5 linked regions of the Homo sapiens genome follow. The protein of the gene in region 3 interacts with the protein of the main gene of each other region in a pairwise test. Each region holds a gene or a part of one and is shown on either strand. Other genes may lie near its edges.

Evidence for each region.
Region 1: the proteins of PRKCE (region 3) and SNCA interact in binary tests that used the Homo sapiens proteins (3 or more experiments, as listed by UniProt).
Region 2: the proteins of PRKCE (region 3) and YWHAE interact in binary tests that used the Homo sapiens proteins (3 or more experiments, as listed by UniProt).
Region 4: the proteins of PRKCE (region 3) and MAP4K4 interact in a two-hybrid assay, tested with the Homo sapiens proteins (one large-scale study listed by BioGRID and IntAct).
Region 5: the proteins of PRKCE (region 3) and PDLIM5 interact in a two-hybrid assay, tested with the Homo sapiens proteins (one study listed by BioGRID).

The regions. Positions count from the first base shown.
Region 1 is NC_000004.12:89,719,852-89,726,380, forward strand, and holds the end of SNCA (alpha-synuclein), read right to left. Parts: 3' UTR 4,248-6,529; downstream 1-4,247. UniProt on the Homo sapiens protein: Neuronal protein that plays several roles in synaptic activity such as regulation of synaptic vesicle trafficking and subsequent neurotransmitter release.
Region 2 is NC_000017.11:1,345,999-1,351,969, forward strand, and holds part of YWHAE (14-3-3 protein epsilon), read right to left. Parts: intron 1-5,971. UniProt on the Homo sapiens protein: Adapter protein implicated in the regulation of a large spectrum of both general and specialized signaling pathways. Binds to a large number of partners, usually by recognition of a phosphoserine or phosphothreonine motif.
Region 3 is NC_000002.12:46,146,236-46,153,482, forward strand, and holds part of PRKCE (protein kinase C epsilon type), read left to right. Parts: intron 1-4,805; coding exon 4,806-4,994; intron 4,995-7,247.
Region 4 is NC_000002.12:101,700,707-101,704,206, reverse strand, and holds part of MAP4K4 (mitogen-activated protein kinase kinase kinase kinase 4), read right to left. Parts: intron 1-3,500.
Region 5 is NC_000004.12:94,652,564-94,659,810, reverse strand, and holds part of PDLIM5 (PDZ and LIM domain protein 5), read right to left. Parts: intron 5,352-7,247; coding exon 5,171-5,351; intron 2,385-5,170; coding exon 2,264-2,384; intron 1-2,263. UniProt on the Homo sapiens protein: May play an important role in the heart development by scaffolding PKC to the Z-disk region. May play a role in the regulation of cardiomyocyte expansion. Isoforms lacking the LIM domains may negatively modulate the scaffolding activity of isoform 1.

The sequences.
Region 1 (6,529 bases), on a different chromosome or scaffold from region 3:
AAGGACAAGTATGCACTGCCCTACTTACCTACTTTCCACACTGCTGCACAGGAAAATCTGACAGAGGACAATAACAAACATCTCACCAGCTCATGCGTTCTTTTTTGATCCTAATTCCGAGAGACTCACCAAAGACATGAAGAGAAAACAAACAATACTTTTCTTGGAAATATTGTAATTGCTGGTACATTTGTTGTTCTGGCATAAAGTAGAAATTGTCAGGTAAACATTGCTTCCTTTTGGATCAAAAAGAAATTTAACCAAATAAATGCAAGAGGTATGAGGGAAGATAATGGGAAATAAATGAGATTTGAGAAATCAGTGGAGGTTCAAGTGGTTTTTTTTTTCTTTTGTAGTTGATAATACTCTGTTTTAAATCAGTGAGTTTTACTTATATATGCTTGTCCTTTTTTTTTTCTAGTTACCAGAACAATACTCAGTGAACTTATGAATATATGGTAAATATTAAACACATCCCACTTGGATGAGAAGATATGTGAGTCGATGAGTATAGCTAAGTCTAAAGTTAGATGTGTTCCATAAACATAGTGTTTATGGAGTTGGTGCATATTCACTTCTCAGTAAGTTACACTTTCTTAATTTCTTTTTGGTGCTAGGTGATATTCTGCTAAGTACACATAAGTATAGTAATATTGGTTAGTAAACTAGTAAAATGCTCCCCTAGCTATTAGTAAATAGCTTCTGCCTTGTGTCTCCAAAATATCTCTACCATTATCCTGATCTTGATTGCTATTTTATATTAAAAGAAGACATGTGAATGTATATGAACATTTAAAAAAATTGTTATTTCTTATTTACCTTTAAAAATACAGTGTGCTGTACTAGTACTACTACTAATAAATAGCATCATTGACTCATAGATCACTTACTATCAGCCAGGCAGTCCTAAGTATTCCACTTACATTAACTCACTTAATGCATGCAACAATGCTATGAGGCACTATTTTTATCATTTGCATATTTACATATAAGGAAACAGAGACACTAATATTAAGTAGTAAGAGACATAAATGGGAGTCGAAGTTCCATAGTCTATTAATAGTTTTGGAGTTCAGGATAGTCTCTATTACTCTAACCTACCTCATTAAGCAGCATCCTTGACTATTCTAGGTAAAGAGTATTGTATTCTTTTCTAAGATAAAAACATGACTTGCTACTATATTTGTTTGGATTCAGCTTTACTGGAACACAGCTTAGCTTTGACATTTACAGACATGGGTTAGGTTTCATTTTGTTGCAAGATAAAAGGCAATCTGATATTTAGTTTACCTGCAAAAGGCAGTTAGGAAGCCCTAGAGGAACCTAATTAAAATGCAGCACATTTCCAAGGCACCATATCTTGCTGTGTTGCCATAGAAACAACGAGGATTTCTGGTCACTGACCTTCCAGGGAATCTGAGGATGTATTTTCATAAGGTTCATAAGAGAAGCCATCCTAGTATGTTAACCTATAGTTGCAGATCAACTATACGTTATGGAAATTCCCTATGCAATTCTAGCCAATTTTAAAACCAAATTATACTAGCAAAACTTACTAGAGGCTCAAACTAAGGGCTCTTTGAAGGAATGTGGTTTAACTGCTTCCAATATAAGATTTCAAATAATTAAGGATACTGTAGTAGCAGCAAAAACATTAAAGAAAAGCTTAGGTAATTACACAAAGAACATTGGAACTAAAATCATATTTAGGAATAGTTTCAATGTTATATCTATTCTATTGCATTTTGGGTTCTTCAATTCTAGGCTTACTCAAAGGATAAAACGAACATTACTGCATCAATCAACTACACCTAGAAAATCAAACTTTATTATACAATATTAAGTTGCTAATATTATTTATACCTATAGATTCTTAATTCATGCCCTTTACTATCTATTTATAAATTCATTCATTCCATTACTAAATATGTATAATTGACAATCCCAGTTATACCTTAATTTATATTTTTTTGTCTATTTGACATAAGCCAAGTACCCATGCCATGATTCAACACAGAAAATTACAAAGCCCACCTTACTGTAGACTGCTGCTCTTATTGCATCAACATTCGTATCTTCCACGGAAAATAATTAACTTAGTTCTATAATCAGGATATGCCCGGTTTATTTACAAGGAAATACCTATCAGGTGCTAATTTCTCTTAGAATTAGAAATCTTGGCCAGGCATGGTGGCTCACACCTGTAATCCCAGCACTTTGGGAGGCCGAGGTAGGTGGATTACCTGAGGTCAGGAGTTTGAGACCAGCCTGGCCAACGTGGTGAACCCTGTCTCTACTAAAAATACAAAAATTAGTCGGGCTAAGGTGGTGTGTTCCTGTAATCCCACCTACTCGAGAGGCTGAGGCAGGAGAATCGCTTGAACCTGGGAGGCGGAGGTTGCAGTGAACTGAGATTGTGCCATTGCACTCCAGCCTAGGTGGCAAGAGCAAGACTCCATCTCAAAAAAAAAAAAAAAGAAATCTCTCTATATGTATCTATAGATATAGATATGTTTATAGATATATAGATATACAGAGACATATATATAGAGATGAGAGATATGTGTACACATATATATAGATACACATTTTGTGTGTGTTTGTGTGTGTGTGTGTGTGTATATGTTTGTCTTCAGGCACCTGAAGAAAAACAGATGTACTAGCAAAACTTACTAAAGGCTCAAACTCTAGTAAATTTTCTTTAGGTACCTGAAGAAAAACAAATATCTAATTATTATACCTAGAAAAGTGGGGCTATCACCCCATTTCCTAGACTTCTGGAAGTTTTCTTAAATAGCTGTGTGTCCTCACTCTGACACTATGTGGCCAAGGGGCTGAGAGCACAGACTGTGGTGCTGTAATGTTGGGCCTCTTGGCTCTGCCGCTTACTAGCTGTGTGGCCGTGGGAAAGTTATCTAGCCTGTGGGTGCCTCCTTTGGCTTATGTGTAAAATTAGAATCATAATGGAACCTATTAAGGTTGTTTTGAGAATTAAATGACTTAATATTGATAAATCACTTACATCTATATTTGACACATAATAATTTGTCTAAAGTATAGCCAATAACAGGGACAGAGCTCATATGAAAATGTCAGCCCTGTTGCACTCTTGCCCTGCCCAAGACAGAAAGAACAAAGTGGGATGAACACATTTCAGATGAAACACAGAGTTCCATTAGTGTGTGGACAGAGGCAGTCTGTCAGGTTTACAGATTTGAAAAGAAAATGTGTTTTCTTCCTCAGTATGGATTTAGACAGCACTGTCTTTGAGAATTAATAGTTGTCTTTGAGATGTGTGAATGCATGAGTGTGTTTGTTTTAATCTAGTAGTGAAAAGGAAACGCTGTTTTTCTTTCTATACACTCACTCACAACACTCAATATTTCCGGAACACAATATTTCCGGTTCATTTCTGACACCACATGTGTGTGTGGGGTGTGTTTTCTACACCAAGCAATTCTCCCATTCTTTGTGGCTACCAACTGGGTGTCCCGTAATTCAAATCGGACACTATCTACCTGGAGTTAGCATTGACCCACAGGTTAAGGACTCAGTTTTACAAGATTTTTCCCCTTCCCACTGAAGATGACAATCACAAGCAATGAGTCCTCATGTTACTCATAGCTTCTGTTTGACTTGTCTACAAATCCAAGGTCTCCACGGCCCTCTCCTCAGGTTTGATAATTTGCTAGTGTGATTCACAGACTTCAGGAAAACAGTTTGCTTACTAGATTACCAGTTTGTTATAAAAGGATACAACTCAGGAACAGCCAGATGGAAGAGATGCACAGGGAAAGGTATGGGGGAGGCGTGGGGAGCTTGCATGCCTTCTCTGGACACACCACAATTCCCAGCACCTCTGCATGTTCACCTATTTCAAAGCACTCTGAATCCTGTCTTTTAGGGATTTTTATGGAGTCTTCATCATGGAAGCATTGTTGCTTATTAACTCAATCTCCAGCTCCTCTTCTCTCCCGTCCCCAGAAGATGTGAATGGGGCCAAAAGCTTCAAGCTTCTTATCATGGCTTGACCTTTCTGGTGACCAGCCCCCATCCAGGAACCCAGCAAGAGTCACTTCATTAGAAGAGAAGATGCTACTCTCACCCAGGGACTAAGGAGCTCTGTCAGAAAGCAGAGTCAAAGACCAAATATTAGAACAAAAGATGACCCTAGCACCCCTACTACTCAGGAAATTACAAGGGTTTTAGGAGCTCTTTGTAAGAACTGGAGGCAGAAACCAAATACATATTTTCATATATGTATATATTTATTATGTCACAAATAGCTACATACTGGATAAGCCAGAAAGATGAGGAAACATGTTTGCATCTCACACTAGTGCAGAGATTCTGAAAAAGACCCCACTTGGAATACCAAACCACACATTAGATTGTTCTGTTCCCAATTGTGTGCCAAAGTGCACTCTGAACTGTTTTGGTAAAGCCGACCGTGGAGTCATATGAGGCTGAATAACTTGGGAGAATGTAAGTCTGCAAAATAAACCTAGGACTGGATTGATCCTCAGGCCACTTGGCAGGTGAATGTCTCGGGAGTGAATATGAGACAAGCTTCCTGAAAAGGCTTATATGACTTAAAGAACTTTTTGTTTAAGTGTTTGGTCCCAAATAAACTATTAAGATATATAAAGTAATTCACTGCTCAAAAATTACCGTCAGATAAATATTAAGGGAAGAAACACTTTAAAGGAGAATTTGTATCCACATAAATCCTTAAATTCATGGTCACAACTTTCCTAATCTCAAATTGTTCTAGGTCACTGCTATCAGTCTAGTTCTGTCCTCTATTTCTTAATTTAATACCAATACTTTTAAATTTTTAAAATATGCTGCTTTAGGTAGATTTAAAATATATCCTAACCGCCACTTTCTAACCTTCCTGAAATATACTGTTCAATAACAAATCCTTTCCTTGCTTAAACATAACTTAAATAAAACAAGAAACTTACCATTTCTCTCTAGTGTAAGATGACACATGCAGCTTAGCACTCTGTAGTAGTCTCTCTTCAATTAGGTAAAAAAGGAAGTTTCTATGGTAACCATCCTTATAGTCACTCATTCCTCCTTCCTTCCTCACCAGCGCCCAATATATATCACATTACTCATGAATACATATAAACTGCTAGCATGTCTAGAATATTCTGTCTTGAAATTATACTTTCTACTAGTGACTTTTAGAAATGACTATGCCCCAGAATAATTAAAAAGAGAAACCAAATAATTTTTAAATTAATTTATACAGAGTTTTTCACCATCAAGTTTATTTTCAGCACCCATGGGGAGTTAATAGATCTTCCCTGAAAGAGAAAAACCTTTCCTAAGGAAAAATCCTAGAATTCATATATTTGGCAACATTTAAAGGAGGCCATGAAATTTTTATCAGTCTAGAGAATTGATCTCCTTTAAGGTGACTCTGGTAGTTCCAACGATGTTTAAAGGCATTTCCTGTAAAAAAAAAAAAAAAAAGAGAGCGAGAGAAAAAGAGAGAGAGAGAGAGAGAATTTCTGATGATTAAAAAAAAAAAGTGAGGAATGCTGAGTTAAACAAAGTTAACCACATTCTCTCAGAGCCTTGAATGTGCTAATATGTGCTAATGTGTCTTATGGCTCTCTAAGGAGGGTGTAGTCAAAATCATCTTCTACACTGCTTAGTTCCCGGGAACCCACTTTTTTTTTTTTTTTATTCATGGTCGAATATTATTTATTGTCAGAAAGGTACAGCATTCACACCAATATCAGACAAAATAGATTTTAACTAAAAAATTATTTCGAGACAAAAATAACAATATATGTTAATAAAAGGCTCAATTAAAAATGTATAACAATTATAAACACATACACATCAAACAACAGTTCCCCAAAATACGTAAAGCAAACATTGACAGGATTGAAGGGAGAAATAGACCACTCTACAATAGTAGTTGGGGTCTTCAACACCCCACTTTCAATAATTAATCACAGCCACTTAAGGAACCAGTGCATACCAAAACACACTTCTGGCAGTGTTGCTTCAGGGAATTCCGAGTGTAGGGTTAATGTTCCATTTTCTCTACCTCTTCTAAAATTCCTCCTTCTTCAAATGGCTATTAATAACTTTATATTTTTGTCCTTTGTGTCAGTTCTTAATTCATGTTGCTTATAAGCATGATTTTTATTATTAAAGTGAGATGGGATAAAAATAAAATATTTTTGCAATGAGATAACGTTTTATTTTAATTCTCACCATTTATATACAAACACAAGTGAATAAAACACATCGCAAAATGGTAAAATTTCATATTTAGTATTTATAGGTGCATAGTTTCATGCTCACATATTTTTAAGTATTATATATATTAACAAATTTCACAATACGTCATTATTCTTAGACAGTATCATTAAAAGACACCTAAAAATCTTATAATATATGATAGCAAATCACTAACAACTTCTGAACAACAGCAACAAAAAAATAGTGAGGATTTAGAAATAAGTGGTAGTCACTTAGGTGTTTTTAATTTGTTTTAACATCG
Region 2 (5,971 bases), on a different chromosome or scaffold from region 3:
CTGTTATAAATATTTCAGCTTTTGTATCTTGGCCAGATACACCAAACTATAATCAGATTTTACTTCAGAGTGAAACACAGCATGCTCAAAGTAAATCAGACCACTGAGGTTATTAAAGAATGGCATTTGGACCACTTCACTCATGCTATTTGTCTTTTGCCTTTAAAGAGGGTGATTACCCTAAGGAGTTTCAACTGCACTATGACATGCAACAGAAAGCCACCTATTGGTTGGAGGGTCATCTACCTATTAGTATGCATTAAACAAGTCAGCCAAAATAAAGAAGCATGCAGGCTTTTCCCTTAAAAATGATGTAACAGGTAAAAGTTACATTCACTTGTACTTTTTTAAAAAAACCACTTACAATTACTACACAGTTAACTAGTTTGAAACAAAATAAATGAAAAATCAACCCAAGAATCATAAATGTTCAAATGACTATCCATTCATAATGCTTGTTAAATTATTTAATTAGGATGGACAAATAACACCAAACTAGCTGCCTACACACATGAAGCATTTACACTGAGTACAGCTTTGAAACAGCCTAAATGATCTCAAAATGACAAATGTCACAGCATCAAGGTTTCAGTAGTTTTCAAATCTCTTCTGCGGCGGAAACGCTTGACATTGCTGTGTGACTTCAAAACCCACTTACAGCCTCAGCAACACAGTGAAGCCCTGTCTCTACAAAAAATGAACATAACGCCGGGCACGGTGGCTCACGCCTGTAATCCCAGCACTTTGGGAAGCAAAGGCGGGCGGATCACGAGGTCAGAAGATCAAGACCATCCTGGCTAACACAGTAAATCCCCATCTCTACTGAAAAAATAATACAAAAAATTAGCCTGGCGTGGTGGCACATGCCTGTAATCCCAGCTACCTGGGAAGCTGAGGCATGAGAATTGCTTGAACCCAGGAGACGGAGGTTGCAGCGAGCCAAGAACATGCCACTACACTCCAGCCTGGGTAACAGAGTGAGACTCCGTCTCAAAAAAAAAAAAAAAAGAATAAATAAAACTAAAAGTAAAAAACTATGTATGCTGGAGCCAGGCATGGTGGCTCACGCCTGTAATACCAGCACTTTGGGAGGCCAAGAGAGGTGGATCATGAGGTCAGGAGATCGAGACCATCCTGGCTAACACAGTGAAACCCTGTCTCTACTAAAAATACAAAAAAAAAAAAAAAAAATTAGCCAGGCATGGTGGCAGGCGCCTGTAGTCCCAGCTACTCGGGAGGCAGGAGAATGGCGTGAACCCAGGAGGCGGAGCTTTCAGTGAGCCAAGATTCTGCCGCTGCACTCCAGCCTGGGCGACAATCGAGACTCCGTCTCAAAAAAAAAAAAAACTACATACGCTGGGCATGGGGCCACATGTCTATAGTCCCAGCTACTTGGGGGGCTGAGGTGGGGGAGTTCTATTTCTGCAGTGAGCTTTGAACGCCACTGCACTCCAGGCGGGGCAACAAGAGCAAAACTCCGTCTCAAAAAAATGTATAAAATTTTAAAACTACTTAAAATACATGAAGATCTTTAATTCATAAGACAGAAAAAAAATATGCAAAGGCAAAAAAAAATTGCTTAGGGATGAAAGAACTGATGGGCACCCAACTGTTCTCCAAAGGACAATAACGTATTCAAACGTAGGAAACATGATAGGAACATTCACTCTAACAGCAAATCACTGCCAAAGTATCATTAACACAAACACTAGAACACAACTCGCTTGTAAGCAACCATGAGATGTGCCAGAAGTTCCAAGTAACTTTGGCATAAAAATGTCACTGTCATATACATCACATCCAACCACAGTAGGCAGGAGGAGCAGGCCGGAAAAGGCTTAGGTCAGCGCCCTGGAAGGTGGAACAGGCAGAGTCTGTAAGCAACAGGACGATCATACGCAGGCATGATTAGTGAAGAACCAAAACTGAAAGCGGAATTCACTGTGCCATGAACGTGACTTACAAAGTAGAGTTTTTAGGAAAGGAAGAGTTGGGTTTTCCTTTAGGAATCTATATTGCAAGGAAAAAGGGAGGGAGAACAATCATATGAAAGCAACATTACAAGAAAAATAAACCAACAGAGCAGGACAAAGGAAAACAATGATACAGGAGCCGGACTTTGGTCTTACTTCGTGTAAACTTCACTCTAAGCAACAATCTGTCTACTCCTCCTCCCTTCTACTCTGAGAAGGAAGTAATATCCTCTTGAAAGACATACAGATATTAGGGGAAAAAGGATTCCTTGGCTATGTTTCTTTGCCCAGTGTATCTACATTTTGGAGAGAGGGGAACAGGCAGGGAGAACATGTATTTCCTACCTATGGATTCGTATATGAAACAATCCTCTTACCACAGGGTGAAGAGACTAAAATCACTTGAGAAAAAGCAATGATCCCTCCCTTTAAAGAAATTATGTTCCAACATGCTGGGACAGACATTAACATATTCTAAAATTAAAAGACATAAATACCGTCTCTTTAAAAAACAAAAAAATCTAAATAATCCTTAAACTAAATGCAAAGTCACATCCTAGTAAACTGCCACTTTCATGACGATTCTCCTATATTCACCACGGAACCCAAGTCACAAAAGTAGTATTTTATTTTGTGAGATGAAGTTTTATCTTGCCCAAGCTGGTGTCAAACTCCTGGGCTCAAGTGATCCTTCTGCCTCACCTTGCTGAACAGCCGAGATTACAGGCAGGCACCATTGCAGTTTCAAAACCAATTTATTAAAAAATGTAGGCCGGGAACAGTGGCTCACGCCTGTAATCCCAGCATTTTGGGAGGCCGAGGCAGGCGGATCACGAGGTTAGGAGATTGAGACCATCCGGGTTAACACGGGGAAACCCCGCCTCTACTAAAAATACAAAAAAAAATTAGCCGGGCATGGTGGCGGGCACCTGTAGTCCCAGCTACCAGGAAGGCTGAGACAGGAGAATGGCGTGAACCCGGGAGGCGGAGTTTGCAGTGAGCCAAGATAGCACCACTGCACTCCAGCCTGGGTGACAAAGCAAGACTCTGTCTCACGAAAAAAGGAAAAAAAAAAAAGATGTAATACTAGGCCAGGTGCGGTGACTCGGGCCTGTAATCCCAGCACTTTGGGAGGCTGAGGCAGGTGGATCACGAGGTTAGGAGATTGAGACCATCCGGGCTAACACGGGGAAACCCTGTCTCTACTGAAAATACGAATTATTGCCAGGCGTGGTGGTGGGCACCTGTAGTCCCAGCAACTCAGAGAGGACGAGGCAGAAGAATCGCTTGAACCCGGGAGGTGGAAGCTGCAGTGAGCAGAGATTGCGCCACTATACTCCACCCTGGGCAACAGAGTGATACTCCATCTCAAAAACTCTAATTTTTGACAAATTCAACTTCTCAAACTGATGAACAATTTCTTTGTACCCACAATTATTTGTGTATTCAGAGTTTGTTAGTTGTACCGGAATGTCAACAGACCACCTGAATTTTTCACTGTTGAACTATTTCATGACTGGAAGCATTATATAAATAAAAAGTATTTCACCTAATAAAAATTAAGTGAAAATTACTCTTCTTAACCAAATTTAATCAACTGATTTACAGACTCAATAAGGAATTGAACACAAATGAATTTCACTAGATTTTTTTTTTTTTTGAGACGGAGTCTTGCTCTGTCGCCCAGGCTGGAGTGCAGTGGTGCTATCTCGGCTCACTGCAAGCTCCGCCTCTGGGTTCACCCCATTCTCCTGCCTCAGCCTCCCAAGTAAATGGGACTACAGGCGCCCACCACCACGCCCGGGTAATTTTTTTTGTATTTTTAGTAGAGACGGGGTTTCACTGTGTTAGCCAGGATGGTCTCAATCTTCTGACCTCGTGATCCGCCCGCCTCAGCCTCCCAAAGTGCTGGGATTAACCGGCGTGAGCCACTGCGCCCAGCCGAATTTCACTAGATTTTTAAAAACTGCGAAAGTATTACCCTGTATTTTTTTTTTTTGGACGAAGTTTCTCTCTTGTTGCCCAGGCTGGAGTGCAACGGCGCGATCTCAGTTGATCACAACCTCCAACTCCCAGGTTCAAGCGATTCTCCTGCCTCAGCCTCCCCAGTAGCTAGGATTACAGACATGTGACACGACGCCTGGCTAATTTTGTATTTTTAGTAGAGATGGGGTTTCTCCATGTTGGTCAGGCTGGTCTCGAACTCCTGACCTCAGGTGATCCACCCGCTTCGGCCTCCCAAAGTGCTGGGATTATAGGCGTGAGCCACTGCACCAGGCCGTATTACCCTATTTTAAGATGATCCATTTCCTAAAACTGTACTCGACAACCAAGAATAAGGATTATCTTTAGTTCTGTACATAGACTGACAGGTAGTCTACTTTGATTAATCAACTCTTGGTTATCAGTGATAATGAGCTACAGAAGTAATCCAGACTTGGTTATGAGTTGGTATCAAATGTGTTTTCTTGTTTTGTTTCGTTTCTTTGAGACAGAGTTTTGCTCTTGTTGCCCAGGCTGGAGTGCAATGGAGTGATCTTGGCTCACTGCACCTCTGCCTCCCGGGTTCAAGTGATTCTCCTGTCTCAGCCTCCTGAGTAGCAGGGATTACAGGTGCCCGCCACCACACCTGGCTAATTTTTGTATTTGTAGTAGAGACGGGGTTTCTCCATGTTGGTCAGGCTGGTCTCAAACTCCTGACCTCAGGTGATCCGTCCACTTCGGCCTCCCAAACTGCTGGGATTACAGGCATGAGCCACTGTGCCCAGCATATGTTTTTATTAAAATAATAATAATAAAAAAAAATGGCCAGGCGCAGTGGCTCACGCCTGTAATCCAAGCATTTTGGGAGGCCGAGGCAGGTGGACCACGAGGTCAGGAGTTAGAGACCAGCCTGGCCAACATGGTGAAACCCTGCCTCTACTAAACAAACAAAAAACTAGCTGGGTATGGTGGCGCACGCCTGTAATCCCAGCTACTCAGGAGGCTGAGGCAGGAGAATCCTTTGAACCCAGGAGGCAGAGGTTGCAGTGAGCCGAGATCGCACCATTGCATTCCAATCTGGGCAACAGGGAGAGACTCCGTCTCACAAAACAAAACAAAAAATCAGCCAGGCGCGGTGGCTCACACCTGTAATCCCAGCGCTTTGGGAGGCCGAGATGGGCAGATCACAAGGTCAGGAGTTGGAGACCAGCCTGGCCAACATAGTGGAACCCCGTCTCTATTAAAAATACAAAAAATTAGCTAGGAGTGGTGGTGGCAGACACCTGTAGTCCCAGCTACTAGGGAGGATAAGGCAGGAGAATCAGAGGCAGGAGAATCACTTGAACCCAGGAGATGTAGGTTGCAGTCAGCTGAGAGAGCACCACTGCACTCCAGCCTGGGTAACAAGAGCAAAACTCCATCTCAAAAAAAAAAAATAAAACACACACACAGAAAAAACTTTCAAGTCAGGTCACTTTCATTACTTATTACTTTTACTCTCAAAAACATGTCCCCAGAGGTGAGAGGTGTATCATTTCCTGAAGTCAATCCCGCGCCCCAAACTCTCCGCATGCTTTCCCTCCATCAACAGGCAGAGAGATACTAGCATCTGAGCTGGGGATGACCATTACGAGTCCACAGCTGTTTGACCATTCTTCTTCATAATTGTTGTTACAACTTTTTTTCTTCCCTGAAGAGATGGCATCTCGTTCAGTCATCCAGGTTAGAATACAGTGGCGCAATCGAAGCTCACTGCAGCCTCAAGATCCCCCAACCTCAGCCGTCTGAGAAGCATGCGTTGTCACACCTGGCTGTTGTTTTTGTTTTTTGTTTTGAGACAAAGTCCTGCTCTATGAAGCCTCGCTCTGCCACCCAGGCTAGAGTGCAGTGGGGCGTGATCTCAGCTCACTGCAACCTCCACCTCCTGGGTTCAAGCAATTCTCCTGCCTCAGCCTTGCAAGTAGCTGAGATTACAGGCACATACCACTGCACCCGGCATTTTTTTTTTTTTTAAA
Region 3 (7,247 bases):
GATCTTCATGGTTCTGAGACATGTAAGATAGGAAAGAAGTACCAATCCCCACTAAACATCGCCCATGGCGGATAGGTATTAGCACATTCAGAGCTCATTTCTTTCAGTGGGCATTGTTTGAGCACGTGCTAGGCACAAAGCAATGTGGAGATAAAGAACTGACTGAGACACTTGTCCCTATTCTAAAGAAGCTTTTGGTCTAAAGGGAGTGATAGATAAGTAAACAACTAATTAAGCAGAATAAATAGGCACATAAAAGAAGATGGTATCCTCAGGGATCAGGAAAGGCTTCTTGGAGCACCTGGTGGATGAATTGAGTTGTAAAGAATGAGGATTTCCTTTGACGGAAGGGGTGGGGAGGGTATTCCTGAAAACAACAGGATTGGAACGGGGGCAGGACAGGAAAGGAGGTTCAGTGTCCCTGGGCCCTGGATCCTTTGAGGGCAGGGTCTGTGTTTCTAATCTGGGTACTGCCAGGATCCGGCACACAAATCAGGATCTTAGAAAGGTTTGTTAAAAAATGACAACTTATGACATTCCAACATGAGCAAAGGCCAAGGGACAAAAACATCTTGGTCTTTTCCAGGACAGTTAAAAAGTGTAGCTAGATCATAGGGTTTCCTGGTGCTCATAGTAATGAATGAGATTGGGATAAAGACCCAGTGAATGTGGCTTTGATCCTGTAGGATCTGTGGACCCACTCAGGGTTTCAGTGGAGGAGAGTCCTAGTCAGATCCATCCCAGGAAGAAGGAAGGCCACAGCTGTGCAGATCAGAAGGCAGGGAGTGAGGGACTGATGGTCAGGAGGCTTCACAGACCACACAAGACAGGGGAGGCCTGAGGAACATCTCGAAGTGAAGGTGATGAGTAATAGGTAGTTTCCCTTTAGAACCTTTATCTTCTAAGAGATCTAAAGAGTAGGGATTTCAGTCTTTCTGCAAATGTATTTCCTTAGCAAGAACACTAGGAATTCAGCCTTCAAGGAGCAACAAATGAAAGCAAGAGCTTTCGACAGGGAACTGCTTTTCTCGTGTTCTTCGTTCATTCTTCATTGTCAGAATACTTAGTTCCAGTTCCTCTCTAAGTTGATGCCATCATTCATTCTTCATTGTCAGAATACTCAGTTCCAGTTCCTCTGTAAGTTGATGCCAGAGCCTAACAGTTGACAGCCCATGTTATAGTTAAGGACCCAACCCAAGACAGAACATTCACTTTATAATGAACAAAATAGCCACTCAGCTTTCATGAAAAGCAGTCCATTGGTGAGACTCACAATGAACAACTCTGATCTCTGTTCACAATGAAGCACAGACACTCTTCCTTCCTGCTCTGGCCTTCGTGCCCACCGTGCAGAAACATCTCTGCACTGGCAATGACAATCCCTGGTCTTGCTGTAGGCAAATTACAGCTGATAAAGGTATTGCTGCCTTCATCGAGGGCTACTGGGAAGATTAAATGAGATTATGCCTCTAAAGCATTAGCCCAGTGCCCAGCCCACAGGGAGTGCTGGCTAAATGGTGGCTTCATGGTTATCATCATTGTTGGGTTGTGTGATGGGATAGGAAACGCAATCCTGAGAATTGAGTCTTGAGTCCAGATTTGACCACAAATGTACACATGAGCATTTGATGACTTGATGAAGTCACAAAATGTTTTTGAGTCTCAGGTTTCTCATCTTTCACATGGGAGCCATAACTCCTTCCCTACCTACCTCATCAAGCTGCTTTGAGAATCTAATGAGATTAGAGCATGGAAATGCTTGAGAAAGCAGAAGCCTCCATTCAAATGGGAGAGGTGGTAAGGTGCTGAGCTAACCTCAAAACCAGAGACAGCTTTGGAGGCATGAGGTCTGCCCCAAGGCTTATCTTCCTGCCACATGATATGCCCCATGGCACCCCCTCTGCTTTCCCACTCCCAGCCCCTGCTTCCCAGGAAGTGGCCACCAGCCTTTGGTAATAGCATCATCAGGGCCAATGCCTTCTCCCTTCTCCCTTCTCCCGAGCTCTGACGCACTTGAGGGGTTGGCTCCAGGTGACTTCCCGTGACATGGAAGCCTTGCCCTTCTGCCCAGATCCACTGCCGACAGTTAATTAGGAAGCAGATAATTAGAGCCAAGCCTAAAAGGAATCTTACAAAAGATGCCACCCAAAATGAGAAGGCTGTGGAAGGGGCCTGGAGTGGGGTGGCAGGGCGGCTCTGTGGTTTCCACAGCACCATCCAGTCTCAGCACACACAAGCCACCTTCTCCCCACCCCCTGAAGGCACAGAACCCAGCTGCCTCCTTCCGAGAAGCTGGAGGGCAGCCACTGTAGCACCCAGTGTGCCCTGAGGCTAGAAGAGAAGGGAGCATGCCCAGTAGATACACACAGTGGCCATGCATGCTAGCCAGTCACAAGATGTTGACTGTCTCCTGGATGATAGAACAGGCTGGCCACAGCACTGGGCTCAGTAGCATGTTACAGCTCCTACCCTCTGGTACCTTATAGTTGCACTGGGGAGACCGCTGGCCATGAAAAAATAACTAACGACGTAGTGGTATGTGGAAAGTGAGAAAGTGCCTGCAACTCGTAGGAACAGGCAGGGGTCTTAAGTTGGGCGCTGTGTCTTTTGAGGTTGAGGGAGGAGTTGGCATTGGCTTTGGAGCATAGCAGAATCACTGGCTCCTCAGGACAGTGGAGCCCATAGCTTTGACCTTACAGCTCAAGGAACACTAACCACTGGGCTTAGACCAAAGGTATTAGCTAAACAGATTACCAGCCCCAAGTAATGTAGAGTTGGCTGCATTTTCTCAAATTCCTTTTCATTCCAAATTCAGAAGATTCTAAACTGTGAGTGTTTTAACTGTTTCTAAATGCTTCTTCTATCCAAATCTTTCTAGTTCATCCTAAGCAATTTGTAACCTCTAGAAGGGTATTTTGAGCAGACCACAGAAAGTCCAGATACTTGAATTCAGCCTCCTCTTCCCTGGCCACCATGAAATCTGAGAACTAAATTGGAGCCTTGTCCCCAGCCTGAGATATTATCTGCCCAAGGTGTCCCATGGGCTGGAATGACTAGGCATGAACTTTGCCTTTTTTTTTCAGGGTCCTCAAAGTGTTCCCCCTTGCAGGATATGCACTCCAACCTTGTTTCTCCTTCCCTTTTTAAAATTCTTTATAGAATTATGGACCTGGATAGGTCATCTCATCCACCCTCCTGTTTCTGGGCAGAGCCATGCCTAATCCCACTCTAATAAGAAGAGAAAATAATTGTGGAATGGGAATGTCACCTCATGATCTCTTCCTTGTAGAGTGGACAGCTCAGCATTTATTTTTCCTCTGAGCCAAACACATCATTGATCTGCTACATATTTATTTTATTTATATATGTTATATTTTAAAGGCATACTGTAAAATACAAAGCTCTATACAGCTGAAAGGTGATATTAAATTCTAGTCTTTTCTATTGGATGTCATCTCCATATATATATATATGTATTTTTATATATATGTATTTATATATATGTATTTATATATATATGTCATTGACATGCTACATATTTATATGTGCGTGTGTGTGTATCATGTATTTATGACATATGTGTATGGAGAGCAGATCAAATAGAATAGCCAATCAGAAAAGATCCTTTTTTTTTTTTTTGAGATAGGGTCTCACTCTGTTACCCAGGTTGAAGTGCAGTCGCATGATTATGACTCACTACAGCCTCAAACTCCCGGGCTCAAGTGATTTTTCCACCTCAGCCTTCTGAGAAGGTGAGACTACAGACACGTACCACCATGCCCAGCTAATTTTTTTTAAGAGACAGGGTCTTACCATGTTGCCCAGGCTGGTCTCGAAGTCCTGGACTCAAGTGATCCTCCCACCTCAGCCTCCCAAAGTGCTAGGATTACAGGTGTGAGCCATTGCGCCCAGCCAGAAAAGATGTCTTGTATTCAGTAGCATCATGTCATACATGCATTTAATCTAAGTGAATTTGACTCTACATATTTGGCTAGAGGAAAAAGAGAGACAGCATAGATAAGACAAGTGACCATTGTCAAAGACAAAATGCACCAGACAATCAAGGAGATGGTTCGATTCTGGCTATTGCAATAGGGGGTTCATTAGTGAAGGTGGCCCCAAAGGAAGGGGGCCTACGGTTTTGTAGAGGCAGGCAAAGTGGGGGATTCTTCAGTGGATCTTATGGGAATCATGATGAACAATAGAGATGGGTTTTTTCTTAGAATATGCAAGAGTATAGTGGTCCTTTATAGGGAGACCATTACAGGGTGGGGGAGACTTATTCATTGCAGTTTCCTCTCCAGGAGCACAGGGCTCAGGTAAATTGAGTGTTGCACCATTTAAAGAAGACCTCTGCTCACCTTTCCACTCAGGCAGTGAGCTGTGCCCTGGACTGTGTGAGATGGGAGACCTGACCTCGCTGCACTCTGAGTCACTTACAGCTTGTTCTCTCAGTATGCATCGTGCTCCCCTGACCCTGATTTTAGTGTCAAAATATGCAGTTTTTTAAAATGTGGCCCTCATGCCAGTCAGGAACTTTATCTGGTGCTCAAAGAAATAGGAATTTGTTCCCACTGGAAGACAGACTGTCGATGTTGACTTTGGAAAGATGATAGCTGGCCCCCAGCATAGTGCCTCCAAACTCAACTGTCACTGAATTTGCTGATTTAGAACTTCTAGGACTAGGACTCAACTGTAGGGAGGAGCAAGTTGGAATTGAAGTCCTTCCCATGGGCGTTCGTAGCACGGGTGTCACTGGGGTGGGAGCCTTTGATGGTGCCTGACATTGCTGGTTTCCTGAACAGATCCTGCAGGAGTTGGAGTATGGCCCCTCCGTGGACTGGTGGGCCCTGGGGGTGCTGATGTACGAGATGATGGCTGGACAGCCTCCCTTTGAGGCCGACAATGAGGACGACCTATTTGAGTCCATCCTCCATGACGACGTGCTGTACCCAGTCTGGCTCAGCAAGGAGGCTGTCAGCATCTTGAAAGCTGTGAGTCACTGCCCCTCACCCATGGCTGTGCTCTCCTGGGCTCCTCCCCCTACACACACACACACACACACACACACACACACACACACACACACTCCCTTCTCCCTTTCTCTGTCCAGCTTTCTCCCTCCCACCTCTGCTCATCACCACGGAATGGGAAGGATTAAGGGCAGTTGCCACTGGGAGTTCAGGCACAGTGCAGAGGACTGCTGCCAAGAGAATGGGGCCTGAGATGACTTGCTCTTCTGGTGGGAAGAGGAGCGCATGTCTGTGCTTCCTGAGATGAGGCACTGTGTACATCTGTGTCCTCCAGCATTTCAGAGGGAACAGAAGCAACTCAACTGTGCTGACATCACCTCTGCCACTTCCATACCTTCCTTACCTGTGGCCTGTCTTCATCAGGGACCTGTGATGGAGAACAGAGAGGAGGGGAGGGAGGGTGGGCACCGCCCACCTGTGTCCACGACAGCATCACTGTGGCTCAAGAGCCAATCAGAAAAGATCTGGTACACTGGAAATTCATGCAGTCCTGCTGGATTTAGATACATAATACAGAGACTGACCCTGCCCTAGGAATCATCCCTCACATGGGAAAACCCCTTATGCTTTCTCAGCACAGCCATCTCTACGATGTAACAATGCTTGTACTGTGTCAAGCAAGTGATGTTACCTGTCCCCTTTTGAAATCCGTGAAAGCTGAGGTACAGGGAAGTTAAGCAAGCAGTCTGCCCAGGGTCACCCCTCTGAGCTAAGATAGGATGAGGGTGACAACCCAGGGACCATGACTTCTAGACTTGGCTTCTTCCACTCATCTGAATGCCCCAAAATTCAATCATTTGCACATTATAGTCACAAAATTTGCCATCTTCAAGTGTCTTCTGCACTATTACTAGCTTTTCTTGTTCTTTTAATCAACTTCCAATATTTACCTGATTATATGTATTTTACAAAGAAATTTTTTTTTTTTTTTTAGACAGAGTCTCACTGCAATGGCCAGGCTGGAGTGCAATGGTGCTATCTTGGCTCACTGCAATCTCCTCCTCCCAGGTTCAAGTGATTCTCCTGCCTCAGCCTCCTGAGTAGCTGGGATTACAGGCACCCGCCATCATGCCTGGCTAATTTTTGTATTTTTAGTAGTGACAAGATTTCACCATGTTGGCCAGGCTGGCCTTGAACTCTTGACCTCAGGTGATCCGCCCACCTCAGCCTCCCAAAGTGCTGGGATTACAGACATGAGCCACTGCGCCCAGCCTGTATTTTACAAAGAAATTTTATACCATTATCGTAGGTAGAAAATCAGTATCACTTGCCATAATGAATTAATGTAATTTTTTTTCAAGATGGAGTGTTGCTTTGTTACCCAGGCTGGAGTGCAGTGGCGTGATCTCGGCTCACTGCAACCTCTGCCTCTCGGGTTCAAGAGATTCTCCTGCCTCAGCCTCCCGAGTAGCTAGGATTACAGGCGCCCACCACCATGCTCAGCTAATTTTTGTATTTTTAGTAGAGATGGGGTTTCGCCATGTTGGCCAGGCTGGTTCCGAACTCCTGACCTCATGATCCACCCACCTCGGCTTCCCAAAGTGCTGGGATTACAGGTGTGAGCCACTACACCCTACCTAATGTAAATTATTGTATAAAAATTTTTGAAAGATCTAAAACCATTTTGTAGGTATCTGAGGGTGCATGTACCATGTTTTAGAAAACTCCACATCAGAACATGTTACCCTTTTCTGTAGTTTTTTTTTCCTCCTTCCTTTCCTCTTTCCCTCACCTCATTCCTTCTCTCCCCTCTGCCCTTACTCTCCTCCCTCTCTCTTTCATTCATTCATTCAATGAACTACTATCTATTGAGCACTTCCAACATGCTAGGCATGGTGCTAGATGCTGAATAAGTATTGGTGAGACCTGGTCTCTGCCTTGTGAAGTTTCCAATCCTGTGGAATTATTTATTATTTTTAATAAATTAAAAATATATCAATAGGTAGCCACAATTGGGATAAGAGAAGTGAAGGAGGCAAATAGAGTATGTTCATTCATGCATTCATTTATTAAACAAATATTTATTGAGCATCTAGTAAAGACTATTTATTCATTTATTCTATAAATATTTATTGGCAGGCACTATGCCAGGCGCTGGTGATACAAACAACACAGTCCCTGCTTACAGACTAGTGAATAAATGAACAGACAAATGACTGTATATTGTACTAAATGGTAACAAGTGCAAAAAGACACATGCAGAGGCTCAGGAAA
Region 4 (3,500 bases), about 56 Mb from region 3:
GCAGATCAGCTGACACAATCTCCTCCTAATGAAAACATCTGGTTCTACAAAATTCATTTTGCCCCAGTGGATGTCTTTACCTCCAATTAAGAACGAGAGATGCTACACTTAAAAGATAACACTTAGAGAATCCCTCACAAAAGTTTAAGTACTTGCTCCAAAATGCAAATTTTTTTATTTTATTTTTTCTTTTTGGAGGAGTCTGGCTCTGTCACCCAGGCTAGAGTGCAGTGGTGCTATCTCGGCTCACTTCAACCTCCACCTCCTGGGGAAGTTCAAGCAATTCTTCTGCCTCAGCCTCCTGGGTAGCTGGGACTAGAGGCACGCGCCACCACGCCCGGCTAATTTTTCTATTTTTAGTAGAGATGGGGTTTCACCATGTTGACAGGCTGGTCTTGAACTCCTGACTTTGTTATCCACCCGCCTCGGCCTCCCAAAATGCTGGGATTACAGGTGTGAGCCACCGTGCCCGGCCCCTAATGATTTTTAAAAGCCAGACAATCTATATGGCACTTTACCACTGAGCAATCGAAAGCAATTTTAGCACTTTAACCACCCCACCCCCGCCTTTTTTTTTTTTTTTTTTTTTGAGACAGAGTCTCATTCTGTTGCCCAGGCTGGAGTGCAGTGCCATGATCTCAGTTCTCTGCAACCTCCACCTCCTAGGTTCAAGCGATTCTCCCACCTCAGCCTCCCAAGTGGCTGGGATTACAGGCGTACACCACCACGCCTGGCTACTTTTTATATTTTTAGTAGAGATGGGGTTTTGCCATGTTGGCTAGGCTGGTCTCCAACTCCTGACCTCAGGTGATCCGCCCGTCTCAGCCTCCCAAAGTGCTGGGAATCCCAAAGCTCCTCCTAATACTGTGGGCAAACCGTGTACCCACTTAAAGGGACATACCAAAGCCTGCAGAGAACGAGTGAATTCAACATGTTAAACCTAGCAAAGAGTAATGCCCAAGTATCCACCCCAACCTCTCCTCCTCTCTACCACCACTGCCACTATCCCGCCTCGGCCTTCACCTCCTGTCACTGGACCACTGCCCAAGGCCAACCATTTTACCAGCTCCTTCCCAACACACATCTGGATCAAGTCCCCTACTCTAAGGGATCCCCAATTCCAACAAAATCTTTCAGTGACTCCTCAATGCTTAAAGAAGATGTCTCTCCTCAAGTCCAAATAATACCTCCTTGAAATTCCCACTACTCCCTAACCTTTCTACCATTCCCAAAGGTCACTCTTAGCCCTACTGCCACACACAAACACCTCACCTCTCCCCTCCCTTTCTTCAATAAATGAGGGGTCTAACATGAGCACAGTGTCAAATGGGCATCGAATGAGCAAACTCTTAGCGTTAGCTCCCCTTACCATCAAGGTCTTTGGGCCTAGGGTACCCTTGTCCTCAATCTCCAAGGTCCACATTGTACCCTTCCTCCAATGACAAGATCAGAATGGGTCAGTCTTCCACAAAATCTATGGTCCCTCCTTTGAGTGAACCTTGATTTCAGACATTTTACCTGCTGGATTCTAAACTCCCTGACTTCCACGTTACTGTTACCGGATTTCCCCTCTGTCAGTCCTTCCAAGACTCAGAATTGTCCTCAGGCTGGCAATCTTCTTTTCTTTTCTTTTTTTTGAGACAGAGTTTCACTCTTGTTGCCCAGGCTGGAGTGCAATGGCACAATCTCGGCTCACTGCAACTTTCACTTCCCAGGTTCAAGTGACTCTCCTGTCTCAGCCTCCTGAGTAGCCGGGATTACAGGCACCCCCCACTACACCCGGCTAATTTTTCGGTATTTTTAGTAGAAACGGGGTTTCACCATGTTGGCCAGGCTGGTCTCGAACTCCTGACCTCAAGTGATCCGCCCACCTGCGCCTCTCAAAGTGCTGGGATTTACAAGCGTAAGCCACCGCGTCCGGTTGACAATCTTTTATTCAAGACATTTGGAACACCAGCCATCACATGCTCACAAAATGCAAAATAACAGTAGTTACCCCAAGAACACAAAAATGGTCAAATAAATATTTAAAATAACAATAAGGCCGGGTGCAGTGGCTCATGCCTGTATACAATCCCAGCATTTTGGGAGGCCAAGGCGTGCAGATCACTTGAGGCCAGGAGTTCAAGACCAGCCTAGCCAACATGGTGAAAACCCATCTCTATATACAAAAATTAGCTGGACGTGATGGCACGCACTTGTAATCCCAACTACTCAGGAGGCTGAGGCAGGAGAATCACTTGAACCCGGGAGACGGAGGTTACAGTGAGTAGAGATGGTGCCACTGCACTCCAGCCTGGGCAACAGAGCAAACCTCCGTCTCAAAACAAAATAACAATAAAATCCAAAATAACATGGAAACAAACTTGATTTATTTCTGGTTTTAATTTTTCACACTATCATTCTCCTCACTGATCATACCAGACACTTCTCTTATAAATATATGGTACTCTGAATGTAACCTTGTGAAGAGAAATTTACAATTTTAAGTTTATGAGTATCCGTCTCTCAAAAACCTAAGGGTGAAAATAAATTTCTCTAAACAGAATACACCCCGTTTTTCACCTCCTTCTTTTAAGATGAAGTTACATACTGTTCAACTATACCAGACCATTTACCACTGTTGTCAGAGACACAGAAAATTAGAAGTTATCCCCAAAAAACTGGATCAAGTCCCCTACTCTCAGGGATCCCCAATTCCAACAAAACCTTTCAGTGGCTCCTCAATGCTTAAAGAAGATGTCTCTCCTCAAGTCCAAATAACATCTCCTTGAAATTCCCACTACTCCCTAACCTTTCTACCATTCCCAAAGGTCACTCTTAGCCCTACTGCCACACACACCCCTCCCCCTCCCTTTCTTCCATAAATGAGGGGTCTACCATTAGCACAGTTTTGCAGGAGAGTCGTTCGCCCCAAAAGAAGCTATTTCATACGACATATCAAATCTCAGAAAACTCCCTCTTTTCAACTCACTCACTTCATGTAAATATAGTTGCCTCAAAATAAGCAACATCTGCGCTAATGAAAAATAGAAAATATGACACTAAAATAAATTAGGACAAGTTGTTCAGCTTACAGATTTTTTTTACCTGAAATTATGTTTAAAAATAAAGACCTTTTTATAAATAACAATTCAGCAACAAGTATTTCTCAAACTTTAATGCTATTCATCCTAAAGGATGTTTAGCAGCAATAAACAAACTCTAAAGTGTTAATAATGTAATCCCAAATCTACCACAAGCAAATCATACCAACAAAAATCCTAAATTAACTCCTACACATAATTGTAAATGGTTCTAGAAATTAAATAGTTAAAAAGAGGAAAAAAAGAGATGTTCTGCTATTTTCACCACTTCTAAGATTGAAGTTCCCAGTACCCGCTTGTAAACATTAAAGAACTTGTTATAGTAAAAAAAAAAAAAAACACATTTTACTGATGTATGAGACAATCAAGAAAACGTTAATAGTGAATATATGACATTTTTCTAAGTGTGATAAC
Region 5 (7,247 bases), on a different chromosome or scaffold from region 3:
CACGCTTGTAATCCCAGCACTTTGGGAGGCTGAGGTGGACGGATCACGAGGTCAGGAGATCGAGACCATCCTGGCTAACATGGTGAAACCCCGTCTCTACTAAAAATACAAAAAAATTAGCCAGGCGTGGTGGCGGGTGCCTGTAGTCCCAGCTACTCAGGAGGCTGAGGCAGGAGAATGGCATGAACCCGGGAGGCAGAGCTTGCAGTGAGCCAAGATTGCGCCACTGCACTCCAGCCTGGGCGACAGAGCAAGATTCCGTCTAAACAATACACACACACACACACACACACACACACACACACACACACACACATACACACATATATACTACAGCTGCTCTATGCCTGCTGTTTGGAGGTTGGAAGGAAGGTGAGGGGCTATACCATTTAGGTGCCAATTACAATGTCCAGAAAAAGGGTGAAAGCAAGTTAGCTTCAGTGACTTTAGCTTTAGTTAGCTTTAGTGGAGATGGAGAGAAATAAATGAATATGATATACGTTGGAGGTAGAGCTGCCAGAATTTCCTATTTAGATTGGATAAGGAAAGAACAAGGGGAAAAGCAGAATCCAACATGGCCTGCAGGTTTTTGGATAGTGGACGATGGGGTTATTTATTGAGATAGAGGAAACTGGGTTAAGAAATGGTTTGGAGGTTAAAAGAAGAAAAAGAACAAAAACAGACCAAGTTGATTAGATGTGACATTTAAATAAATATTCAATAATGTTTTTCCTTTCCTATAAGTAATTATTTAGTATTTAAAATATGACTTCAAATACATTAAATATAGGTATTAAGGCTAGACTGTTTTATGTGTTTTGGCTAGATATGGGCTACCTGCCAGTTAGTCAAAATGTCTTCCAAAGCTGCTAAAACAAACAAATCAAACTAAAAACCAAACAAACAAACAAACAAACAAAACCCAGCCCTTTCTTCAGAAAAATTAAGTGGAATTACAAAATATGAAGTATTCTGGTTGAATTGAGGAAGGCAGCTTGTGGCCAACCTGTCCCAAAACAGCCCATGGGGTACTTCACTGGAATTTCTGGGGTTCCTGGGAGACAGTCTGGAATATATCCAGGTTGGTTTAAACTAAGGAGCTGAAAGGAAGATGAAAATAAGAGAATACTGAGTGGGCAAAGAAGGGCTGAATGATGATGACACAGCTTCAACTTAGAAGCTGACTGCTCCTTTAACTCCATTATTTTGGAATACCTCCTTCTATCAGCACAGAGCTTTGAATTTCAAGGTAGAATAACAATAAAACTCAGTAGTGAGAATGCACTGGTAGTGAATAGAGGCACAATAAAGGAAAAATGTTTTGTATTTTGAAACATGTATATGTGGTAGTAATATCTAAGTAAGGGCACTATTAATAAATGTTATAAAAGTTCACTTACAGACTTTGGGAAGGAAAAGGAAACGTTCTGAGTTTGTGTAATAAGACAAATGCAGTAGATAGGTCCTTTTAGTCTAGTTTATTAAAAATCATTTTACCAAGGGAACAATCCAAGTCAGGATTACCTTCTCATTCAGTAAAAGTAACAAACGATCTCCAGTTTATTTTCAAGGCAGTCGCCTTAAAGGGCAAATCAATATCATATTCTAAAGTGGAACATTTCTGATGTTTACAAAATTCACTACTGGACTACAAGAAGTGGACTTAAGGTACATGATTTAGTAGAATTTATATCCACAAATCATTGGGAATTCAAGCAAAATATTTTTCCTACTAAGTAATGCTTACATTCTCAATTCTAATAATAAAGTTGGGAATATCTGTTTTGACAAAGTCACATTAAAAAGTCTATATAGGGCCAGGCGCAGTGGCTCATGCCTGTAATCCCGGCACTTTGGGAGGTGGATCACCTGACGTCGGGAGTTCGAGACCAGCCGGGCCAACATGACGAAACCCTGTCTCTACTAAAAATACAAAATGAGCCGAGCATGGTGGCACATGCCTGTATTCCCAGCTATTCGGGAGGCTGAGGCAGGAGAATCGCCTGAACCTGGGAGGCAGAGGCTGCAGTGAGCCGAGATTGGGCCATTGCACTGCAGTCTGGGCAACAAGGGTGAGACTCCGTCTCAAAAGAAAAAAAAAAATCTACATAGTTTTTTCTACATGCTTAGAGCAGCATTAAATGCTTCCAAAACAATTAAGAAAATAACTTTGCCTAATATTTTCTTGAGCTTTATAGTAATATAAGGGTTAATGTTTTACCTTTATTCAAAATTCAAGAAACAAATGGCTCCCTGATCTTACCAGTCTCACAGTAGGGTTCACCATCCTCCAAGTGAAAAACATTGTTCCGAATGGGCTTTCCACAGGCTACACACACAAAACAGGAAACATGCCAAGTTTGTTTCAACGCACTGATGACTTCCTGTTACAGAAAGGTAATTGGATGTAAAAAAAGAAGATGACAATAAATACATAAATGTTTATTCTAATATCTGTACCAGTAAATCCCTGTAGAGCTAATCCAAAGTAGGCACACATACTTCATTTTTGTCTTGAGCTTTCCCTCAAAGTAACAAGAGATACTTAAGAACAGACTCACAAATCATCTAAACGGATGCATATTTAGACGTGTGTTCTTTACAAATGCCAATCAATAAACTTAAAGAATGATCACTATGTTATTTATACATTATATGTACAGTGAATAAAGTAAGCATTTCATAAATGCTTGCTACAAAACTTTCTGCTTCTTCTCAAAGGGTGTCAGGAAACATTAACTTACCAAGGTTTTATGGTATTATCTGCAAAAGTTCTGGGGGAAGGAGGAAGCATTTAAAAATTAAAACAAACCTATACTTTGGTGCATTTTAGAAGCAATAATATAATATATATAATTTAATAACAAAACATAATGGGGCCGGGCGCAGTGGCTCACACCTGTAATCCCAGCACTTTGGGAGGCCGAGGCGGGCGGATCACGAGTTCAGGAGATCGAGACCATCCTGGCTAACACGGTGAAACCCCGTCTCTACTGAAAATACAAAAAATTAGCTGGGCGTGGTGGTGGGTGCCTGTAGTCCCAGCTACTTGGGAGGCTGAGGCAGGAGAATGGCATAAACTCGTGAGGTGGAACTTGCAATGAGCCGATATCGCGCCACTGCACTCCAGCCTGGGTGACACAGCAAGACTCCGTCTCAAAAAAATAAATAAATAAATAAAAATAATAAAATATACATAATTATATATAGTTGTATATATTACATGTATATAATGTATATAAATGTATATAATGTAATAAAATATAATAAAAATATAATGTAATCCAATCAGTTTAACACGTGTTTAGGCTTTTGGAAATCAGCTAAGATGGCACTAAGCACAGACTCGAATGTGTAAAATTTGGACCATATTCTAGTCAGCAATGGCCCAATGGTTAAACATACCAAGTTATAAAGATTTGGGCCAGATATTAGTTAGTAAAAGAGGTTTTGGGTGTTGGTTTTACAAGAAATCATTTCTTTGGATTGAGAGAAAGATGGAGCCATTAAAATAATTTTGGATGAGTAGTGAATACTCTTTCTATAATATTTATCACAAAAAATCATATACATAAAGCATGATTACAATTTTGTAAACACATTACTTATAAAGAGCAAACTAGAAAAAAACACATCATAAGGTTAACAGTAATTATCTGTGATTGGTAAATATTTAGGTCATTTAAATTTATTCTTTAAATTTTTTGTGTTTTCTAATTGTGCTTGAGTGAACTATTTTCTTTTATAAAAAATATCAAAATAAAATGAAATAATATAGACTTATTAGCCATAGAAATTGTCACAGTTCACTACTGAAGGACAATGGGAAGAAACAGACATTTAGATCCAAAAAATTCACCATGAACATTTGTAGAAGATGTATATTGAATCAAACTATCTCCCAAGGCTTCCAGAATATTCTTCCCTTTCCATCCTTGAGAGAAATCTTTAACAGGTAATCAAATAACTAAAATACAATCTAGACAAGCTATTGAAGTTCTGGCCCATCTCCAAGGCAATGAGTATGAGATTTCCATTTCCCAGAACTTTATTTGGGTCTAAGACTCTAACTTCACTTTGTTTTGTTATTCTAACATTTATAGAATACCTTGATACACTAAAACAGTATTAATGAATATTCTATTAATTATTTGTTATCATTTGGGAAGGTACAGTCTGAACCATTCCACTTCTTTGTTCCCAACATATTACACAAATCAATAATCTAGAAATATTTCAGGTGACATATATATAATTTTAAGTGTCTTCAACGTTTCAGACATATTTAAGGATATCCTAAGAGATATCTTAAGACTACTCAATAATTCATACTACCTATTCTCTCAATTAACAATAATTAGAGTTTCATTATCATATTTTCACATTGAGAGTATATTAGAGTTCAGCAGGGCCATGTCCAATTTTTGTGTGAAGCCAGGTACTCTGGCTTCTTCTGAAATCAGATTCCAGCTCCTAGTCACCATAAAGTATGCCTGACCCTTACTTTATCATTGGAAACTAGGTATTCCAGAGCAAGAAATTCATGTATTCATTATTTATTATGTACTGTATCTGATTCCTAAATTACTCCTTTTTTTGCAAAAAAGGAAAAAAAATTATTTTTCCATCACATGTGCACTCTCATAAAACTGAGGTTATATTTTTAAACACTGTATGTATTCAAGAAAAATATATCATTTATAAACCTCATGTTTTATATATTTCATGAAATCAGTGTCCTGTGCTTGAACTCTGACAAGTAGGGAAATACTGCTCTTATAAAAGCTATGGAATTTAATTTAAAACAGTGAAGGTGTCAGTTCTAAGAACTCAGATGTGTGTGGTCCTATGCGACCTCTTCATTCCTGAGCAAACAGGCTCCTGTTGAGGAAGCACACCCACAGTAAATTATTTTTTCCCCACAGTGGCTAGACTTTCACCAGACAAGCCAGCACTCAGTGAGACAAAACCAAAGACAACCTAACCCCATGAGTCCGATATATTTCCACAGAGGTCTATTTAGTTTTGCTTTACAATAATAAATAGTGCCGAAAGCAGAGAGGGCATAAAGCAAGAAGAAAATAAAAAGTTAAAGTGATAGAAGACTTTCATATCAAAAAATTATTCTACTTTAAAACTCATTCAGAATAAAAACGTTTCCAATACTTACTCCAAGGATCTTCCTTTGGCATCGACCACATTCAGGGGCAAAGAATTTCTCATAGCACAGCTCACAATACAGGGCTCCTTTCTCCTCTACAAATCCAATGTAGGCCATTGTATTTTTGCAGTGAGCGCAGTTGAATTCTTCTGGGTGCCAAGATTTCCCCAGTGCCACTAAGAATGGTCCTCTGACAGAAGAAAAAGAGGCCAACTAAGTTTGAGAATAAAATTTCTAGAGTTAGCCTGGATATGGACCTCTTTTATGCAATGTCCAACCAATTAAATACTTGCTCAATTTTCCTTCTTAAGGACTGAACTCATGGGTGTTGGGTGTTGTAAATTCACAGAGGGACTCTGCATTGATGTGAAAAGAAAACGGGAGACGTGCACTTAAGGGATTCCTTCAAGAAAGGGCACTCCCCACCCTTTTTCTGCCTAAGGGAATTTGGTGATGTTTTATTGAGCTGAAATGAGGCAATCTGTCTGCATCATGGGTAGGATTGAGAATGAGGATGTTAACTGTGACTGTGACAGAACATGAGGCAACCAGAAAAAAATATATGGTTTAGGCAGAGATGAGACTTTGACACTTCTACAAAAGAAACAAACAAAAACTTCAATTTGGTAAGTCATAGTGCTAAAAATAGTAATAACTATTACCTGAGACAATTTCTCTTCCCCACAATTTCTCTTCCCCACACATTCTTTCATGTATTTATTTCTCAACTTTACTAAACACATCAAGTCCTCACCCTCCAAAATGACTACAGGAACTGTAAACTAGGTATTATCAATTGTCTGAAACTACTCAGAAAGGTTTCATTTCACTCAAATATGACTGATTTATTTCAAAAATTTAATTTTATTGTGGTAAGAACCCTTAAAATGAGATCCACTCTCTTAACAGATTTTTAAGAGTACAATGTAGTATTGTTAATTATGGGCACAATGTTGTACAGCAGATCTCTAGAACTTATTCATCTTGTATAACTGAAATTTTATACCCACTGTGCACCAACTTCCCTCTCCCCCCTCCCCAACATGACCGATTTTTAACACACATTTGTATCAAGGTAACAAATGTTTGTAAGAGATTTTTTTCCCCATTAAATACTTTATGGTCATGAACTGATAAGATGGGCTTGGTTTGCTTGGCAGGAATCCATTATGAAGCCTTATCTAGTCATGAAGCCTGCAGAGACTAACCATTCTAGCCTCTGCAACATACTTTTCAGTAGCTATATCACACTAATTTATATTCATAGAGCAGCTTTACCTCCAAGGCACTTTTACACTTATCTAATTTGTCCATGCAACATTCCTGTGAGACAGACCAGGACAGTTATTATGAATTCAGTTTAACAGATGGAGAAGCCAAGGTACAGAATGTTCAAAAGATATGACAAATATCATAAAATCACTGACCCAGCCAAGGCCAGAAGTTGAATTTCCTGATTTCTAGTATGCCGCTCTAGTCAACTGATATTCTGCCTTTGACCTCATTAACATCACTTATCATCCCTAAGCGACCACATGGTAATTGTTGGTAAGCATCAGACACCAGACTTCCAGGCAGATTATTAACAGGAGAAGTCATAGCAATGAGTATCGCAAAGTCACAGCATTTTTAAAATTCTGACAATAACATAAACCTTGCTATTCAATAACTATCTCCCACTGTAAATTCTTTGTCACCATATTGATGTTTACTCAGAATCAGCACCTAATTCTGCAAGAGTCACAAAAGGAGAAAGGCTCTTGATGAGTGATTAAAAATTTTTACGTGGGGTGTAAGAGGGTATTTTCTAGCCCTACTTTTTGTTAACTTGTTTCTTATTAATAACATGATGCCATTTTGTATAAGCTAGTACATATCATTCTCTTAAGTTTGAGATAGGCAGTTTATTATTATTATTTTTAAAACTTTAGGGTACCATAATTTTGTTATGACTAATAAGGAATGCCTTTGTTTACTAATTCCTGCCAGAAAAGAAAGGCTACAGATCACCTATTCTGTAATCGAATATATTACTTTTGGTAAGTGGTCCATCATTTTCAACTGACTTATAAAATAACAATCCTAT